Homo sapiens: one gene and its partners. The protein of the gene in region 2 purifies or fractionates together with the protein of the main gene of each other region. This does not show direct contact. Each region holds a gene or a part of one and is shown on either strand. Other genes may lie near its edges.

Region 1 (3,500 bases), on a different chromosome or scaffold from region 2:
AAAAATGTTACGAAAGAGACGCCAGTCAACAGCCTTCTTGGACCGGAGCCAGCCAACAGACACAACAGAGCCCACCTAGAAGAGAAGCAGACCAAGGAAACAGGTTATTGAAGTGCCAGTGGTATTCTGGCAAACAGACACCTGAGACTGTTTGGACAAGGAGCCCCAGACCCCTGGACAAGACAAAGTCCAAGAAAGCTGGTTTACAACAGGTTAAGCTGGGAAAATGAAGGCAATTTGAAAATCCAATCATAATCTATACTAACGGTAGTAAAAGGACACAAGAACTATTTCTTTTCCCCTTCTCAGCTACTGCTAAAATTTAATGAATATATACTGCTTTTATTTATTTATTTTTTGAGACGGAGTCTCGCACTGTCGCCCAGGCTGGAGTACAGTGGCGCAATCTTGGCTCACTGCAACCTCCACCTCCTGGTTTCATGTGATTCTCCTGCCTCAGCCTCCCAAGTGCTGGGATTACAGGCACCCACCACCACGCCTAGCTAATTTTTTGTATTTTTAGTAGAGATGGGGTTTCACTATGTTGGCCAGGCTGGTCTCAAACTCCTGACCTTGTGATCCACCTGCCTTGGCCTCCCAAAGTGCTGGGATTACAGGCATGAGCCACTGCACCTGGCCTATACACTGCTTTTAATAACAAATTGCATTGTAAGTCTTCCTAAGATTATTTACAGAGTGGCTGATATTAAACCTAATAAACAATTGTCTGGAGACACATCCGGGTAGCAAACAGATGACTCAGCAGGATCCATGATGGACCAGCTTAAATGCTCTTAAGGAAACCAGTTTCTTCCTTCTCCTATAATTATTAGATTGTCATCAAACAACCTTAAGATTTGTTTTGTTTCTCAGTATTTCAATCCTGAGAGGCCCTGAAATATGCCTTCTGTAAATAAACTGCTTTGCCAACATTTTGGCAAGCCTCACAGACTTGTTAGAACCAGGCCTTCAGCCACCACAAATGGCAGCAGAAACCCACCTGGCCAGAATTAAAGCACCTGCCAGTTTCTAAGCATACACCTACCCTGCTCTGAATGGCTTCCCCAAAGGCAAAGAACATAATGCTGTCGGCCGGGCGCGGTGGCTCACGCATGTAATCCTAGCACTTTGGGAGGCCGAGCCAGGTGGATCACCTGAGGTTAGGAGTTCATGACCAGCTTGGCCAACATGGTGAAATCCTGTGTCTACTAAAAATACAAAAATTAGCCAGGCATGGTGGCGGGTGCCTATAATCCCAGCTACTTGAGAGGCTGAAGCACAAGAATCACTTGAGCCCAGGAGGCGGAGGTTGCAATGAGCCGAGATTGTGCCACTGAACTCCAGCCCAGGTGACACAGCAAGACTCCAACTCATACATAAATAAATAAAACATAATGGTGCCAAGTAGAAATGACTCTTGAGATTAAAAAAAAAATTATTATAAAGAGACTACAATGAGGGAGGATAAAGTAACAAAGGAAGAGGTTAGTAGCCAGAAACTACAGTAAGCTGTATATAAAACAATGTTTCTATTATTTGGGGAGAATATCTATTTAATTGCTTAAATAAGAATAAACACAAGAAATAACTTATGAACTCTTCAAGACTCCAACTGCACAAAACTTTCTAAATCAAAGTATCAGAGAAGTAAAACTAAAAACCCTACATATTAGAAGAACCATTTGAAAGACACACATTGGCATTACACTTACTTTACAATGTGTTGTACTGATGGGAAGGCCAATATTTGATGCAATCACCACAGTGAGGGCAGATGCCAGTTCAATACTGAAGCCACTACAGACACAAAAGGATTCTTGTCAGGAAGTGAGTTTGACTTTTTTGAGAAGCTAACACTACACCTCAAGTTAACACAGTCCTGCTTTGTTCTACTCAGTCACAAAACCTCCACTGACATCTTTATTTGCTATAACCCCTAAGATCTACTTTATTTAAATCAGGCCACAGATGCCCAGTTTCCTTATTCAAAGGCTTCCAGTTTTACGTTTTTCTGGAATCCCACTATTAAATAAAATTTGCACTTTTATTTTGAAGAGTTTGGTAAACATTGAGTCTTAGCTCCCAAGACAAATAAAAGGCAAGTATACATAACTATCCGCTCTTAGCATACACAGCTTTCTCAGAAAAGTCATTTTCTTCAGAGACCACCAGAGCTAAATGGGTAAAATGTCTGACCAAAATGTTTAAGGGCCAGACAAGTAAAATCTAAAAAGAACAATGACAATAAGAACATCATGAACTTATACAAACTTGGTTACTTTAGAGATTTGTGTTAGCACTCGACAGTGTTATATCTCTGAAAAAAATGAGTACTGACATTTGTAGAACCTGCTCCACCTACTTACCTAGAGGGTGTGATCGGTGTCAGATCCTTCCCCATGGTCTGGATAACTCTTCTTCCCCAAACCCACAGACCAACACAGATACCAACACCACCATAGAGTAGAAGCCATATTGGTGTTGCCACTTTTGAAGAAACATCTCCTGTGTCATAAACCAAATATAAAGCAACCAGAGGCCCAATGGCATTGCTGGAAGAAACAAAGAGGGCAGAAGTGACTTTTCAGGCAGAACTAGATCTTGGCAAGACCCAATCTGCTGAATGATCTACCAGGTTGTCTAAAGTACAGCTTTCAAGCTCATCTGGCAAAAGGGCCTTTCTTTCTAAAGACATAAATGGAACCCCAACATACACAACAGAAAAATGAACACAGCTCTGATGGAGGGAATGCCAGGCAAATGGTGGCCTCTTTCCTCCTATAGGCAGCTTAAAGCAACTCTCAGGTTCCAATAAACAGTTTACAAACCAAACTACAAAATCATTCTATATGAAAAACTTTTAAGTTTTTCATCTTACATCTTACATCCCACAATTCACTACCAAAGAACTGAATCTCATCTTGATGGACAAAAGCCTTCTCTGTGAAGAGTATCTGTTTATATTTATCATCTACAAAAATAAACATTCTTTGTAATTCCTCTGAAGAATAAAACTGTACTGTCTTATTATGTCAATAACTGCTATTACCTCATCCTATTTGTATTATTTGGGGTCCTGTAAATGCTAGGAGTACCACTACCACAAGCACAGGCCTGTGACAAGGATAAATGGTTTAAAAATAGGGTTAGCAACACTAAGATCAATGTCAACTGACCTTACGTCATTGCCACCATGGGCGAATGACCCAAAGCAGGCTGTAAGGATCTGCAGGAACTGGAAGAGGAGAGAGACTTCAGGCTTATCCTGGTCATACCATTCTTCTAGAGAGCCATTACTTCCTTTTCTGTCACCTAGACCCATCTCTGCCTTGACACTCATGTCTATCTCAGATGCTGAGTGAAGGTCAGACACAGCATTGCAGTAACTGGTGTAACTGTCCATTCGAATTCGCTTCTTGGAGTCTGCATTAGGCCATGTCAGCTTCTCCATTTCTTCGCCCTTCTGTTCACCTTCTTTGGCACGGAATGAATCCAGAGGC
Region 2 (3,500 bases):
ACAGGGACCTGCTAAGGTCACACAGCCAGCAAGTGATGGAGCAGGTTCTCCTGCTCTAGTCCCCACCGGGCCTGTGGCCTTGCCTATCCCCTCACCTCTGCCTTATTTCTTCCCGCTGCCATTTTTTTTTAAGAGATAGGGTCTTGTTCTGTTGCCCAGGCTGGAGTGCAGTGGTATAATCCTAGCTCACGGCAACCTCAAAATCCTGGGCTCAAGAAATCCTCCTGGCCGGGTGCGGTGGCTCACACCTGTAATCCCAGCACTTTGGGAGGCCGAGACAGATAGATCATCTGAGGTCAGGAGTTTGAGACCAGCCTGATCAATATGGTGAAACCTTGTCTCTACTACAAATACACAAATTAGCCTGGCATGATGGTGTGCACCTTTAGTCCCAGCTACTCGGGAAGCTGAGACAGGAGAATTGCTTGAATCCGGGAGGCAGAGGTTGCAGTGAGCTGAGATCATACCACTGCACTAAAGCCTGGGTGACAGAACAAGACTCCGTCTCAAAAAAAAAAGAAAAAAAAAAAAGAGATCTCTTGCCTCAGCCTCCCAAGTAGCTGGGACTACAGGTGCCTGCTACCATGCCTGGCTAATTTTTTTAAGAGACAGGGTCTTGCTATGTTGCCCAGGCTGGTCTTGAACCCCGACCGCAAGTGATTCTCCCACTTCAACCTCCGGAATAGCTGGGATTACAGATGTAAGCCACTATGCCCAGCAATAAACTTTTTAAAAAATATATAAGTACAACTGCTTTCTAAGGAAGGTGGGGTCTGCTGAATAGATGATCCTTTGTTCTGCTGCTGAGAGCCAGAATGAGCCCGAGAGCAGTTGCTGAAAGGTACTGAGTCATCCTGCCTAGGAGGGAAGAGGCATTTGAAATTCCTGGAGCAAGAAGAGTAAGGAGGAGGGTTGGAGATGGACGGTATGAATAAGGTGGGGGCAGAGTGGGGCGGAAGGGGCAGGCAGTAGCTGAGTGTCACGTGGAACCAGAGAGAAACCCCGGGACAGGACAAATAAACCCAACTATTTGATATAAACATTTGAAGTTGTTTACATTGAATTTCCACCTTTTCTCTTCCTCTATAATCTCCAGCAAATTTTCTTCTGCTTAGCTTGAGCTCAAGGAGGATGAGTATAAAAAACAAGGAAGAGCTTGAGTTTCAGATCTGAGTCAAGGTTATATGCAGCAAAAGCAAGACCCCAGAGGGTTTTGCAAACATCTGGAGACCAGGGCAGTCAAGAGAGCAAGCTGATCTTATCTAGCCCTTCAGAGCCTGGGAAACCCCCAGGGCATCCCTGGGCTCCACCAGAACACGAACTGCTCATGCATAAATATTTACATATATGTGGCCATGCAAACATACACCACTTTCCCAAATACAGGCACATGCACGCTTGCACACACAGAGAGACTTTGTAGAGTCTGCTGCTTCCTCTCTCCATCGCTCCCCCTTAGCTTTGGCCCACCCTGCTTTGTGGGAAGGTGGTTTAGGGCCGGCAGGTCTGGGTTGAGTCATCAAGGAGAAGCACTAGTAGCTTCAGGGGGTTGGGGGCTGTGTGCAGGAGGGGCTCCCCAGGTCACAGGGCTGTCCTTTCTCTCTGAGTAACCAGGATATAAAAGTCACTGTGTGGGCTGGCCACCCTCCTTCTGCAATGGAACCTCAGACTGACTCACCTGCAGCCTCCCCAGGCCCTATTGAGTGGAGCCAGGTGGCAGTCCCCTAAAATGGCCTGCAGGTGTCTTCTTTGGGAAGCCCCAGAAAATACGGTGCCCCTGAGTGACCAGAGACAGGAGGAGGCAAGGGAGGCTGCCCAATGGATAGGAAAGAAGGTCCATTCTGTGCTCCCCAAATCCAAGATGGGAAAAGCCATTGCCCACCTCCAGGGCTTTAAAGAGCCACAGAGTCATCCTGTCTCCAAAGTCCCCACCCTCTGCCACGGTCCCTGAATGGTCCTGGCCCGGCTCAGTTCTTGGTTCTGCCAGGAAGATTGTTTAACTGACCTGGGGAGCCTGTCCCTTCTCAGAGCTGAAATTTTCCTTTCTGTAAATGGAGACAATGCCTCATCCAGCCAGTCATATATTATCTGTCATAGGAGTGTCAGGAAGGCAGGGACCTTGTCTGTCTTGGTATCATAGTTTCCCAGCATCAAGCACAAGGTGGATACTCAATCAATATTCATTGAATGAAATTAGTCTCAGTTTACTTATCTCTCTTTAATGCATCTATCTACCTATCCATCCACCCGTCCACCCACTCTTATCAATCTTCTACCCATTCCTCGCCCACCTGCCACCTCCTGCCCAACCCCTATTCATCTCCATTCATCCATCTACCCACTCCCTCTCCCCTACCTACCACCTGTCAATCTTCCGCCCCCTTTTATCTCACCTACTCATCCATCCCTCATCATCCCCTCCCCATCCCTTCTTCCATCCATCCATCTGTCCATCCATCCACCCATCCATCCATCCATCCATTCATCCATCTATCCACCCATCCATCCATCCATCCATCCATCCATCCATCCATCCATCCATCCATCCACTTCCTGATTCAGCCAACACTGGCTGGAATTACTTTTGAGTATATACAAAAATCTCAGGCCCTCTTATCCTTAACCTTGAGCTCTTTCTCCCATAGGCACTGGTGCTGAGTTTGAAGAGAGTGCTTCCATCCCAATAAATGCCATCAGATCACTCTGTTTATTCAGTCAACCAACAAATGCTGGTTCCTCTTGCCAGGCCCTGTGCTGGGTGCTGTGAGGTACAGTGAGATGAACAAGGAATGCCTCTGGCCTCAGAAGGCTCCCAGCCTGATGGACAGGTAAATTAGGCACACAAAGTATCAGAGGTTTTATTTATTTTTTTTAATTGAACACCTACTGTGTATTGGACCCTGTGTCCAGCATGTACACATCTGCTCTCTTTAATTCCCAACATTCCTGCAAAGGGAGTATTATCCCAACTTTACAGATGCAGAAGCTGGAAATAAGAGAGGCTAAATGTGCCCAGTGCCACACAGCTGCATGGTGGCAGAGCTAGTTTTCTACTCAGCCCCTAAACACCCCACTGTTCTAGGCTACCCTAGATGCCAGGTAGAAACACAGTGTTCCAGAACATACCACAAACATATTGGGGTTTACATGAGGGAGAGACCACTTCCAACTTCAAATGGTCAGGGGAGGCTTCTTGGAGGAATTCTCCTTTAGGCTGGACCTCAAGGACTTCTAAGAGTCTTCCAGGGTCTTAGAAGGAGACTCAGGAAATGTCCTGGGTTGCTGGATGAGGTGATAAAGGGAGGGCTTGAGCCATTGCCCAGCTGTGTGTCCTGAGCAAGTCACTCGGACTCCCTGAGCCTCAGTTTCCTTACTTGTAAAATGGATGTGACAATACCTGCTTCACAGTGTGGTTGTGAGAATAAGAATTTTTTAACTTCTGGAGCATTTTTCCCTTAGGGCAAGGTTTCTCAACAGTGACACTACTGACATTTTGGACC
Region 3 (3,290 bases), on a different chromosome or scaffold from region 2:
GCTGCAGAAGAGGAGCGGACGAAGCGCTAGGGAGAAGCCGGACCCCTACGGCGAGGGCAGCTTGGGGTGGGGGCGGGGCCATGTGTTTGGGGCGGGGCCTGGGCGGAGCCGACAGCGGAGGTGATGCTGCAGTCGGACTGCAAACCTGCGGCGGGCAGGTCCGTCTGTAAACCAGCGAACACCACAGCGCAGGGCCAGGGGCAAGCGCTGGATAATGTCCGCTTAGAGACTGACCTCAGCTGAGAAGTGGATGGGCTAATAGAGAGCAGGGCTGGGGCTGGACATTTACTTCTCAAACCTGGTGAGCACGTCGGCCACGAGGGTCCCCCCAGCCAGGGCTCGCTCCTGGGCCCCTCGCTGCTCGTACAGCGCGAATGCGTTGCGGCTCCGGGCCAAGCCCAGCCGCCCCACCAGCTCTCGAGCCACCTAGAAGAGGAGGGTGAGGGGAGACCACTCAGAGGTCTTGCCAGGATTCTGGGAGGGGTTGATTCAATTGGAAGGGGTCTCTTAGTCCTGTCACCACCACTCCCTCCCTTACCAAAATAATCTAGACTCGGGGCAAACCTAGGGTCCAGGAAGAGGGAGAGACAGGCGTGAGAAGCTGGCAGGGTGGGTTGGAGGTCATGGGGCCTTTCTCTGGCCTCACCTCCCCCGCCGTGGTGTGGGAGTCGATGGCCACAGCACAGGCACCAGCCCCCGGACAGTGCACGGTACACAGCAGCTCCTGCCGTTGGCTCAACGCGGAAATCTCCGCCAGCGAGGGCACCAGCTCTCTGCCGCGCGTCCGGCCCAGCGCTTTCCGGATGAAGCGCGCATATTCCGCCAGTTCCGAGTCCGGGAGTGCCTGCTCGGTCCTGGGTTAGGAGGAACCCAGGGATCAATACTCCAAGGGCTTTCTTCTCCCCCTCCCTCTTGCCTGCTTCTCTTATAGTTTATTTTATCTAGCCGATTTCCTCCCCGCCCCAACTCAAGTTCTTTGAAGGCTCTTCTAAATCTCTCCCCAGTGCTTTGCATAGAGCTGAATTACTTTTCAAGTCCCCTGGCAGCTTTCTCCCAACTGCCTCCACCACTTCCAAAAGTCTTCGTGATCTTCCTTCGGCCTGAAATCGAAATCCAGCCACTTTACTACATTTTCCTAAGCCCTGGCGCTGGCCTGCATCAGCTGGAGGAAAAGCAGCCTTTTCATAACTCCTCAGCCCAAGGGGGGCGTTTTATTGTAATTCATCCGCTCACAACTGCGATAGGATCTTGTATCTCCCACAAAGGCACTGTATGTATTACTCGGTTCTTTACCTACCAAGTCTTTTGCAAAAGACCTTTCATTCTCTCCCAGCCCGGTAGCTCCTCGCCTAGGCCGTAACCCCCACCTCGCCCCTCTCACCTCTCCAAGTGCCCCAGGAGGTGCCCCCGCACAGCTCCCCCAGGTCGGAAGGTGCAGCTCATGCAGGTGAGGAGTTGCCAGTACCGCAGGGCCGCAGGGTCTTGGGTAGCCGGGAGCCCGGGGGGACCTGCAGGGCCCGAGGTCTGCTTAGCCAGCTGCAGGAAGAGTTCATCCCGGAGCGCGGGCAAGTCCCGGCAGGTTTGGAGCACACCCTGCATCAAGGGCCCGGGGCGCCGCGCCCCCTCCAGCGCCTGCAGCGCCAAGAACAGCCGCACCGCCTCCTCGCGCAGGGGTGCATAGCCCGGACCTGTGGGAGGGTGGGGGCGGAGGGACGGTTTGGAGAGGGGACACAGAGCTGCGCCCTGGGAGGAAGGCATGAACCAGGGGAAGGTCAGAGGGAATATAAGGGGATGGGGTGGCAGGGAGGGGAGGGTACGAACGACAGGAAGAGTGAAGGGAAAGCAGTGGTCCCACGGAGCCAGACTCTCAACCTCTGCCTCCCAGGAATCCCCTTCCCAATCCCACTAAGCCTGCATTTGGACTTAGGGAGACGGACGGCCGGGAAGGGCTGTAGATTCACACCCCAGATTCTGTAACTCCATACTGAGGCTCACCACCATAGGTCAGAAAACAGGCTGGACTAGGAGTCAGAAAACCGGGGTTCCTCTCCCAGCACCCTTTAATCCTCTAACTTTAGGACCTGGGCCAGTCACTACACCGTTTAGGGAGAAGTACAGTTGGATGAGGCCAGCACATTCTACAAAAGTGGTAGCTTTTCTACCACTTGTAAAGGTAATATGGCATAGTCTCAAGAGGATAATGAAAAAATAGGGGAGTGTACAAACTCCTGAAGGAACATCAGTAGTCAGAATGAGACCCATAGAGAAGGTGGCCAAAGGGGGCCCTTTTGTGTGTGCTGGCTTCCTCTCCTCCACCCTGGCCAGCTTCCAGTTTCACCTTCATCCTTCGAAAAGTGAGGAGCTGGCAGGTCCATGAAGGATGCTTAGATCCCTGCCAGTTAAGGGATTCAGATTCTTACCTCTGAACCACCCCATCCCATCCAGGGGACTTGGGCCATGGGACCACTCACCTGGGGCGCTGACTCCATAGGGCAGGGGCAGGAGTGGGGCATACAAGGCTCCACTAGTGTGTCTCAGAATCGGGTTCCTCAGGTAAATGAGGGCAACGGCCTCTGGGTCCCCGCAACTTTCCTAGGGGGCCAGGGAGAGGGTCACCTTGATGGGGAAGGGAGTTCCTCACAACCCCAGAAAGCTTTGGGGTCCACCACTCTCCTGGCTCTCCCTGGTGTGTACCTGTATGTCCCTGAGCAGTAGCTGGGTGGGGGTCTCCAGGGGTGCCTTGGAGGCGATCACTTCCCGCAATGCCACCCCCCAGCGCTCAGCCTCTGCCTGGCGTGGGGAGCAGAGGCGGACACTGTGTTTCCGACCAGACACAGTCACTGACCACAGACCTGGGGAAAAGAGAGGCCAGGGAGGGCCATTAGGGTCTGCCGGGGCCCCTGCCTAGGAAGGTAGGAGAGTCCCCAGGAGGTCTCACCTGTCTCCTTACGCCTGCGCTCTGGGCCGGTCACCGAGCACAGGCTGGTGAGCACGAGGCTCCCGAGACGCCGCGCCCCTTTCCCGCTGCTGCTGAACTGATCCAGGGAGTCCCGCGTGAGCACAAACCAGGCTCGGCGCGGGGGCAGCCAGGGCCGCGCCCCTCCTCCGCGGGGCTCCCGGTACAGCCAACCTGGGGGCCGGAGAGGGAGGGAAGGGACATCAGTAGAGACATTAATCCCTAGGGGGTTGGGATTGGGGGCCTCCAGAGTGCACTGAGGGGGGTCTCTACCTTTCACAACGATGTCCGGGTCGTCCTCCGGCAGCCCTTTCTCCGGGATGAGGCTCCAAGT
Region 4 (3,500 bases), on a different chromosome or scaffold from region 2:
GGAGCAGGTGGGTCCGGACAGGAAGCCAGGCTTCCTGCTCCCTGTCCCAAGCTCTTATCCTTGCCACAGTGCTCTCTAGGCCCCACTTCTAGGCAGCATCTCGTCATGTGCTGTGGCTCTGTGCAGCCTGGCTAAGGTCTGAGGTCTGAGCCTATGTCCCTGCCGCTCCAGCATGTGGAGGGGAGAGCCAGTTGCTCTGCCCTGGAAAGAGGTGGCTGCCACAGAGAAGTGTGCATTCTGGGACAACGTGGCTCCTCACCTGGGAGTGTCCAGGTCGGAGGCCTCCTAGGGTGTCATCGGGGTCCAAGGGTACCCTTTGGGGGGCTCATGGTGCTTGGGAGCTGCAGGACAGTCAGCAGGCTCCAGTCTAGGCACTCTAGGCCGCCACACTGAGTGAGGTTCCTCAGGTAACTGCCCTGGCCTCAGGTGGGTACGGTCTGGGTTCAGCCACCTCCTGGAGAGGGTGGCCTTCCTGGGGTCCCAGGACACCTTGGTGGTAGCAGTGGGAAGATGGCATCTGACAACGCCCCCCGCTCACTCTCCCCACAGGGACACTGCAGGTCCGCCTCCTGGGCTGTGAACAGTTGCTGACAGCCGTGCCTGGGCGCTCCCCAGCGGCCGCACTGGCCAGCAGCCCCTCCGAGGGCTGGCTTCGGACCAAGGCCAAGCACCAGCGTGGCCGAGGCGAGCTTGCCAGTGAGTAGGGAAGGAGCTTCAGGGGGAGCAGGAGACCCCTGCTTCAGGCCTGCCCTGAGTCCCGGCTCTGGCCCTGCAGGCGAGGTGCTGGCTGTGCTAAAGGTGGACAACCGTGTTGTGGGGCAGACGGGCTGGGGGCAGGTGGCCGAACAGTCCTGGGACCAGACCTTTGTCATCCCACTGGAGCGAGTAAGGCTGGCCTTTGTGTGGTCAGGGGTGACCTTGGGCTGCGGGGTGGAAGGCTGCCCAGGTCGGGGCTCGTTCTGCACCCCACCCTTCAGCCTGGCCTCCCCAATACAGGCCCGTGAGCTGGAGATTGGGGTACACTGGCGGGACTGGCGGCAGCTATGTGGCGTGGCCTTCCTGAGACTTGAGGACTTCCTGGACAATGCCTGTCACCAACTGTCCCTCAGCCTGGTACCGCAGGGACTGCTTTTTGCCCAGGTGCTCACCACCTCCGCCCTCTGACTTGGTGGGACCCTGGGGCGTCAGGGCCAGGAAGGCCTTCAAGACCGATGCACTGCGTGTAGGTGCAGAGACTGACGACCAGAGAGGAGGGCTCCAGGAATAAGGGCTCCTAGCCGCTCTCTCAGGGCTGCATCTGGAGGCCTGGGTCCTTGTCCTGACTGCCCTGCCTCAGGTGTGACCCTGGAAAAGTGCCTCTCCTCCCTGGGCCTCTGTTTCTCCACTAGTATCAATGAGGACATTGAATCTGTTTCTCTGGGTCTTTCTGGCTCTTGCATCTGTTGACCCTGGGGGCTTGGGCTGTAATCCCAGGGGCAGAGGAGGTGCCATGGCAGATGAGATGGGAGGCGACTGGTCCACAACCCTGCCCCTACCCCTGCAGGTGACCTTCTGCGATCCTGTCATTGAGAGGCGGCCCCGGCTGCAGAGGCAGGAACGCATCTTCTCTAAACGCAGAGGTGTGGAGGGAATGGGGGCTATGTGTGAGGGAGCAGGGCTGGGGTCCCGGGACTAAGCTCCCCCTTTTCTCCCAGGCCAGGACTTCCTGAGGGCTTCGCAGATGAACCTCGGCATGGCGGCCTGGGGGCGCCTCGTCATGAACCTGCTGCCCCCCTGCAGCTCCCCGAGCACAATCAGCCCCCCTAAAGGATGCCCTCGGACCCCAACAACACTGCGAGAGGCCTCTGACCCTGCCACTCCCAGGTGAGGAGCTCCCTTGCCCTAGACTGCATGCTCCTCTGTGGCGGCTTCCTGACTCCAGATCCAGGCGGTATCTGTCTGTCTGTCTGCATTGCTCAGCCCGCTAACCCTCTGTCCATCTCACTTTGGGTTGGTGTGTCCATCCTGCCAGCTCTTGCGTCTGCCTGTGCTGGGCACTGTGTCTACTTTCTCCCTACAGTAATTTCCTGCCCAAGAAGACCCCCTTGGGTGAAGAGATGACACCCCCACCCAAGCCCCCACGCCTCTACCTCCCCCAGGAGCCAACATCCGAGGAGACTCCGGTGAGGGGCTGGAGGGACTAGTGGCTCCTAGGGCCGGCTGGGGCTGGCAGGGCCACCCAGCTGTGGGGTGGCAGGCCTGAAGGGAAAGAGAGAAGGAAGCCCAGCCCTGCCCTGAGCTCCTCTATACTCACAGCGCACCAAACGTCCCCATATGGAGCCTAGGACTCGACGTGGGCCATCTCCACCAGCCTCCCCCACCAGGTACCCCATCCTGCGCACCTTCATGTTTGAGACGTTCGTCTGCTTGCTTGAACATTTGTGTATCCATTCATACATTACTCCCTGGCTCCCTGGCGGGTGCGCTGACTGGCTCTCGGGGTCTGATTTACTAAACCCACATTATTGAGCTCCAGCTCTATGCCGGCTTCTAGGAGTCCTTACTGCAGGGCTTTTTCGAGCCCATAGGTCGGGACAGCCCAGGACTGGGCATGGGAGGCTTGGAGTGGCTCTGGGTAGGGGCCCAGCCAGTGCCCTAGGGGACTTCATATACCCTCTCTTCCTTTGCAGGAAACCCCCTCGGCTTCAGGACTTCCGCTGCTTAGCTGTGCTGGGCCGGGGACACTTTGGGAAGGTAGTGGGCTGAAGAGGGTGGTATGGGACGGGATTGGGGGCCTCATCACATGAGCCGGGAGGACCTGATCTGTGGGGGCGGTAAAGGCTCCCTGGTCTGGCCCACCTGGAGCACAACCTCTCTCTGGCCCCAGGTCCTCCTGGTCCAGTTCAAGGGGACAGGGAAATACTACGCCATCAAAGCACTGAAGAAGCAGGAGGTGCTCAGCCGGGACGAGATAGAGAGGTGTGTGGGGGTGCCGCAGGGCACCCAGGATGGCTGGCCTGGGCTGTGGCATCCAGAGGGCAGTTGAAGGTTCCTGGGGCTTTGGAGAGGTGACCCCGTGGGGCCAGCCAGCCTGCATTCTCTTTTGGCACCTGCAGTTGTTAACTGTGTTTCCTTGGGCAGGTCCCCTCTTCTCTCTGTCAGTTTGCTCTACTGTAAAATGGGGGCATTGGTGGCTGTGCACGTTCAGAGCTCCTTGTGAGCCCCTGACATATAGAAACCATCACTCTATGGCCAGGCGTGGTAACTCATGCATGTAACCCCAGCACTTTGGGAGGCCAAGGCAGGCGGATCACTTGAGTCCAGGAGTTCAAGACCAATCTGAATCACATGGTGAAACCCCATCTATAAAAAATAGCCAGACATGGTGGCATGTGCCTTTAGTCCCAGCTACTTGGGAGGGTGAGGTGAGAGGATTGCTTAAGCCCAGGAGGTAGAGGTTATAGTTAGCAGAGATCTCCAGCCTGGGCAACAGAATGAGACCTCATCTAAAAAAACTAATT

Evidence for each region.
Region 1: the proteins of CX3CL1 (region 2) and SLC20A1 purify together in Homo sapiens (affinity purification with mass spectrometry; one large-scale study listed by BioGRID and IntAct). This does not show direct contact.
Region 3: the proteins of CX3CL1 (region 2) and PLEKHH3 purify together in Homo sapiens (affinity purification with mass spectrometry; one large-scale study listed by BioGRID and IntAct). This does not show direct contact.
Region 4: the proteins of CX3CL1 (region 2) and PKN3 purify together in Homo sapiens (affinity purification with mass spectrometry; one large-scale study listed by BioGRID and IntAct). This does not show direct contact.

The regions. Positions count from the first base shown.
Region 1 is NC_000002.12:112,659,439-112,662,938, reverse strand, and holds part of SLC20A1 (sodium-dependent phosphate transporter 1), read right to left. Parts: coding exon 3,177-3,500; intron 2,553-3,176; coding exon 2,367-2,552; intron 1,798-2,366; coding exon 1,713-1,797; intron 76-1,712; coding exon 1-75. UniProt on the Homo sapiens protein: Sodium-phosphate symporter which preferentially transports the monovalent form of phosphate with a stoichiometry of two sodium ions per phosphate ion. May play a role in extracellular matrix and cartilage calcification as well as in vascular calcification.
Region 2 is NC_000016.10:57,375,490-57,378,989, reverse strand, and holds part of CX3CL1 (fractalkine isoform 1 precursor), read right to left. Parts: intron 1-3,500. UniProt on the Homo sapiens protein: Chemokine that acts as a ligand for both CX3CR1 and integrins ITGAV:ITGB3 and ITGA4:ITGB1. The CX3CR1-CX3CL1 signaling exerts distinct functions in different tissue compartments, such as immune response, inflammation, cell adhesion and chemotaxis.
Region 3 is NC_000017.11:42,670,705-42,673,994, forward strand, and holds part of PLEKHH3 (pleckstrin homology domain-containing family H member 3 isoform 1 precursor), read right to left. Parts: coding exon 3,230-3,290; intron 3,131-3,229; coding exon 2,939-3,130; intron 2,853-2,938; coding exon 2,695-2,852; intron 2,593-2,694; coding exon 2,472-2,592; intron 1,689-2,471; coding exon 1,382-1,688; intron 855-1,381; coding exon 647-854; intron 427-646; coding exon 290-426; intron 2-289; coding exon 1-1.
Region 4 is NC_000009.12:128,712,503-128,716,002, forward strand, and holds part of PKN3 (serine/threonine-protein kinase N3), read left to right. Parts: intron 1-549; coding exon 550-696; intron 697-775; coding exon 776-885; intron 886-996; coding exon 997-1,140; intron 1,141-1,543; coding exon 1,544-1,619; intron 1,620-1,694; coding exon 1,695-1,863; intron 1,864-2,059; coding exon 2,060-2,162; intron 2,163-2,295; coding exon 2,296-2,363; intron 2,364-2,669; coding exon 2,670-2,733; intron 2,734-2,866; coding exon 2,867-2,958; intron 2,959-3,500.